Linked DNA regions of Homo sapiens: region 1 is linked to region 2. Evidence: fine-mapped expression QTL. A gene starts in region 2. The other region holds a variant in brackets. All regions are shown on one strand. Distances are between the middles of the regions.

Region 1 (2,500 bases), 58 kb after region 2:
GGGCTGGTGATGGAAGGATCTGGGGACAGCTGCCCAAGCAGAAGGAAATGAAGAAAGAGAAAGAAGGCCAGTGTGGCCAGAGGACAGTGGGGAAAAAGAGGGAGGAAAAAGAGAAGTTCAGGTTGGAGAGGAACGAGGTGGCGTGTGTGTATATGGGTGTATCTGCAAGTGTGCAAGTATGTGTGTGAAAGGGTGGAGATGGGGAGTACAGCCTGTGCAGCGCCCGACAGGCCACCATAAGGATGCAGGCTTCAACTCTGAGAAAGATGGAAGCTGTTGGGGGATTTTGCTCAAAGGAATGATACAGCATGACATTAAAAAAAAAAAAAGTCTGGTAAACCATACCTAATGTAACATTGACCATTTTAACTATTTCTAAGGGTCCATTCAGTGGCATTAAATACATTCACAATGCTGTGCAACCATCACCACTATCTATTTCTAGAACTTTTTCATCTTCCCAAACTGAAGTTCTATACCCATTCAACACTAATTCCCCCTTCCTCCCTCCTGCAGCCCCGGGCGACCACCATTCTGCTTTCTTTCTCTGTGAACTGGATTCCTCTGGCGATCTCGCAGAAGTGGAATCATGTAATATTCGTCCTTTTGGGGCTGACTTATTTCACTCAACATAATGCTGTCAAGGTGCATACATACTGCAGCACAGTGATTTATGTTTTAAAAGGGTCTCTCTGGCTGCTGTATGGAGGACAGACCTTAGGGGAGTAAGAGGCCAGGAGGGGCCATTGCCCTGGTCTAGGTGACAGAGGTGCAGCTGGGACCAAGGAGCTCAGGCATTGCTTGCCTGCTGGCATAAAGGTGAAGGCGAAAAATCTCTCAAATGCCCTGTGCTCTGGGGCCCTGGCTCTGCCACAGCCCTTCCAGGGTCAGAGCTCAGAGAGTCACTGGAGTTACCTTTATAAAATTCACTTTGCAGTAGCAGGAATCATCATGCAGGTTCTTGATGACAATCTCTCCATAGTGCTCAATCCACCTCTGCCC[G/A]CTTAAGATGTTATGGATGCAAGAGGTCACTTTGTTCCACTCAAAATGATCCCCAAAACTAAAAAGAAGGAAAAAGTAGAAGTACCAATTTCTAGAAGAGCCAGCAGCAAATGCAAACAAACTCTGCTCTTTTATAAAATAAGTCATGCAATGCATTATTCATCTCTTTATTCACAGAAGCAACACTGGCTAAGTGTCTATGTCACACTGGATGTTCTAGGAGCTTCCACTCTCCAAGGAGGCATGCATGCCACAGAGAATGACAGCATTCAGACTTTGCACTCTGGAAGCTACCAGAGGCTTCACTAGAAGCTGGTGGTCTCTTGGAACAGCCCACTCCCTCCTTTGACAGAGGAGGCAATTCAGAGCCAGAGGGGCTTGTCTAATGTTGCTGAACTAGGAAAGGGAAGCTTGAGAAAGGGATGAAGGTTTTATACAATCTGCTAAACATACATTGCCTGCATCCTTTGTGATGAGAAAGTATTCAGATATTACTTATGGAATTCAATAATTACGAGGAAAATGGTATTAATAATAAGACCAGATACTTACAAAACATATGCAATGTGCTAAGTACTATTTTAGGTGTTTCATGTATATTATCTGTTTAATCTTCACAATAGCCCTAGGAAGTAGGTGGTTTATTATTCTCTTTTTCTAGATGGGGAAACTGGTGATGAGAAAGGTGAAGTAACTTGCCCAGGGATTCGCTGTTAGTAAGTGCCAGAGTGAGCAGGTGAATCTCGGCAGTCCAGTTTCAGAGTCCCTGCTCAGAAGCATCTTGCTTTATAAATAAGTATCAATCATCCCTATCAGATCAAGGCCATACTTTTCTTAAAAGGGATTTTGATAGCAAAGCAGCATAATAAAGGAAAAACACTTTTTTTAAAAAAATTGAGATAGGGTCTCACCCCTTCACCCAGGCTGGAGTGCAGTGGCACGATCACAGCTCACTGTAGCCTCAACCTCCCCAGGCTCAAATGATCCTCCCACCTCAGCCTCCTGAGTAGCTGGGACTACAGGTGCGTGCCACCACTATGCCTGGCTAATTTTTGTATTTTTTCTAGAGACAGGGTCTTGTCATGTTGCCCATACTGGTCTCAAACTCCTGGACTTAAGCAATCTGCCCGCCTTGGCCTCCCAAAGTGCTGGGATTACAGATGTGAGCCACTGCGCCCAGCTAAAACCACCATTCTTAATCTTGTTAGGAAGTGGAAATGAGTTTTTAATAAGCATCTATTCAGGGAACTTTGGTCTCCAGGAGGCATTTCCATTTGAGGGAGAAACATTTTTTAAAAGTGAGCTTGCCAAAAGGAGGAACATTTAAACCTACTGTCAGACAGATTAAAAGAAAAAATACACACTCAATGCAACTGCCGGGGGCGGGGGTGGGCATCCTGTCCCCAAAGCAAAATCTTGGCCCTAAATTCCATAAAGCTCCTTAACCACAGAAGAAGAACTTACACTGGCAGAGTCACATGGGTTGTGCCAATTGGAA
Region 2 (3,013 bases):
TGAATTAGTTTTAGTTTTCTAGATAGCAAAGTGCAATTGGGTCTATTAAATTAGAACAGAGGTGGCATCTTTTATCTTCCTATCCCTACAGCCCAGTACCTGAGCTCATTTTTAATGAGAAGACAAATTAATATTTCATCATTTCTTTCTAAAATAAAAATCGGTATGTGAACGCAATGATGGTCATAAGACAGGCAGGAGCTCGAAAGGAGAAGGAGAGTGAGGCGCCAAAGGCTTTGGGGAAGTGGAGTGGGTAACAGAGGGCAGTCTGGGTAAGAATAGAGAAGATGCGGTGTGGTGGCAGGCACCTGCGGTCTCAGCTACGGGTGTATGGGAGGATCCCTTGAGCCCAGGAATTCAAGGCTGCAGTGAGCTAGGATAGTGCCACTGCACTCCAGCCTTGGTGACAGAGCGAGACCCTCTCTCAACAATAACAAAGAACCTAGCCAAGGGACCGTGGCTAGGGGGTTGGGCCCTTTCTCTCTCAGATCTACCTAATGGTCTGGGCTCAACTTCTCCTTTAGAAAAAGAGCTTGGTGGTGGTAGATTGTGAAGACAATTAATTTCACTCTTCAGCTGCTTCTCCAACCCCACAGCACTCCTTTCATTCCACTTGGACTTGCCCCACCTGCCTGCGTCTCGAGGACAGCGACCGCAAGCCATCCATCCCTTTCATTATCCCATTCACTATTCTGGACAGAGTAGACTCTGGAGGAGTGGGTGGTCGGTGTGTTCAGTCCACAACCAGCGCTTTTCTAAGAGGTGCCCTCTAGTCTTTCCCCTCGGGGTGCAGACGGCAAGCGGCTCTGGAAAGGGTCAGAGGTCCTCAAATGGAGACCAAAGGAAGCCACGCGGGCAGCTCTTGAGAGCCATTCCAGCGCATGCCAGGCACACCGAGTGGGGCTTGGCCTCCTCCCCAAGCTAGGAGCTCTCTAGATACCGGAGCAAAGTGGAGGGGGACTTTTTTCCGTCCAGAGAGACTGAACTCCGTATCTGTTCCGCGGTCCGCCTCCCTGCACACACGCCCCCGAGCCGGGAGAGCCTCCGCAGCACCCAGAGAAGAGACCGGAACACAAAGGATGAACGAATGGGGAGGGGGGGTTTGGGGGGTTGGGAGAACGAAAATACCAGCTGCGCTTCCAACATCCAAGGAAGGAAGTGGCAGCGGGGACGGGGAGAGGATGGGAAGGGGATGCTGACTGCGAGTTGGGGCGGGACGCGGTGATGGGAGGGGACCGGGCCGGGAATGCGGGAGGCGAGGGGAGCGACGGGACCTGCCGTTCCGGCGGCCGGGCAGCCAATCGATTCGTCTCCCCTAGGAAGGAGCGAGGGGAGGGTGGCCCAGAGAGAAAGCGCCGCGCGGCCTCGGCTGCCCCCGGCCCGGGACACCCAAACAGACCAAAGAGGATCCGGAGTGGAGCCCGGAGCGGATCCCGCAGCCCGCGCCCGCCGCGCACTTACCCGCGCGCCCGCTGCTGGGTCCCCGGCAGCCGCGCCCCCTGCGCTGGCGGAGTCGGAGGAGCCTGCGCTGGGCCGGCGGGGGGCGGGCGCTTGGGGAGGGCGGAGAGAGGGCCCGCCCGCCGGGACCTTTGCTCGGTCCGGGCGCCCCAGAGCCGCGGGACTGGCCGCCGGAGGCTGCGGGAGGGGCCCGGGCCAGACCTCCCAGAAGCCCCAGAGAGAGCCGCTTCCCCTCCTTCGTGTGACTCTCTGGGAGCCGGGTTGCTGACGGCCCAGCGCTCAGCCGGAGTCCCCGCGCGCTTTTCGGGACTCACCCGGGAGATGTCGGGGCCTCTCGGGAAGAGTGGGCTGCGCCTGCCTTCCGCGGCCGCCTCGCCTCTTCGCTGCGCGGGACCGTGGGGTTTGAGAGCGGCGCCTCCTCGCGGGGCCGAACCCGCCACCCACAGTGGAGTGTGGACTGACACCGCGGCCTCACGGTTCAACCAGGAAAGTCCAAGGCCTGTCCAGCCTGTGGGAGCCCCTAATGCCCGTGCCTGGAGTAGTATCTGGGTGTGTGGTGCGACAGTGCCCACACTTAGGCCTGCCGCTAATCAGTGATTCATTCCTGTAAACTCCACTCTAAGCTCCTTGAGGGCAAAACCAGGCGCTCTCACACACTGGGTGCTCAACGAATACTGAACGAGGGAATCTCAGCATAGCTGGTGCTCAAACATTGCTTTCTGATGAACTGACTTAAATATTAGCTCTTTTTGTAACATTAGGACCAGCTGAAACCGATTAACCATTACTTAAGTTGTTACAGCGAGGCAGAGCCAAAATCTCCCGGGCGTGTGCAAGAGGGAAAGCTTTCTAATTGTGAACACCGCGCGCCCCGCAGAAGGCTGCATTGGCATCACCTGGGACTGGTTAGAAATGCCAAAAACGCCTGACCCGCTCCCAGGTCCAGAAGACAGATTTAAGCTTTGCCTCTTGTCTCCTTGCCAGTTGACTGGCAATAGAAGTTTTTCTTTTCTCAAAAGCCTGTGCCACAGTTTGGTTTCTGTGTGCCTCAGGTTACGAGCCCATTGCTCAGTGACACTTTCAGTCAGTGTATCGTCTTCACTGTGCAATGCTCTCTACTAAGCTGAGAGCAAAGAGTAAGAGAAAATGAAATTTCTGCCCTGCGAGAGCTCACACAGTATGGAGTTGTGTGGCTGTCTTAAAGGCTGTTCGGGGAGGGCAGGTAGAGAAGCCCGGCAGCGCTTTCCCTTGGGCCCCGCTATGCTTTAAACATATCTCTAGATTGCAATTATCCACCTCACTGTAAAGCCTTTCCTGACTATCCAAATTAAAAGTGCTGCCCACCCACCCACGGGAACACCTCCTAGTTCCTCCTCTGCTTTATTTTTCTCTTTGCACTCACCACCATCTGATAGACTGTGTGCCTCTTATTTCATGTATTATCCTCTCCTGTAAAATGTCAGCAGCATGAGGGCAGCTGGTCTGTTTTGTTCCCTATGCCCAGCACCTAGTTTAGGATTTGACACATGGTAGCTATCCAGTAAATAATTGTTGA

Direction of the effects. Positions count from the first base shown, and alleles are read on the strand shown. Sizes are in standard deviations (SD) of each study's normalised expression.
In carriers of allele A in region 1, the expression in lung of the gene that starts at base 1,530 in region 2 tends to be higher than with G alone (small effect, 0.36 SD a copy in GTEx).

Evidence for each region. PIP is the estimated chance that this variant, and not a neighbour inherited with it, causes the effect.
Region 1: its variant is the best candidate, but not a certain one, in a credible set for the expression of GSDME in lung (GTEx, PIP 0.50).

Annotation. Positions count from the first base shown.
Region 1 is chr7:24,814,144-24,816,643 of GRCh38, forward strand. It overlaps OSBPL3 (oxysterol binding protein like 3), which reads right to left. Exons shown (of 23, transcript NM_015550.4): 18 at 2,467-2,500; 19 at 916-1,060. Among named protein-coding and RNA genes, the nearest start is that of GSDME, 58 kb to the left of the region's middle. The variant G/A (reference allele first, on the strand shown) is at 1,003.
Region 2 is chr7:24,755,935-24,758,947 of GRCh38, forward strand. GSDME (gasdermin E) reads right to left here and starts at 1,530. Exons shown (of 10, transcript NM_001127453.2): 1 at 1,462-1,530. LOC124901820 (translation initiation factor IF-2-like) reads right to left here. Exons shown (of 3, transcript XM_047421177.1): 2 at 1,728-2,003; 3 at 390-1,635. The coding sequence ends at 922. RefSeq lists silencers at 1,080-1,129, 1,140-1,719, 2,530-2,679 and an enhancer at 1,800-2,029.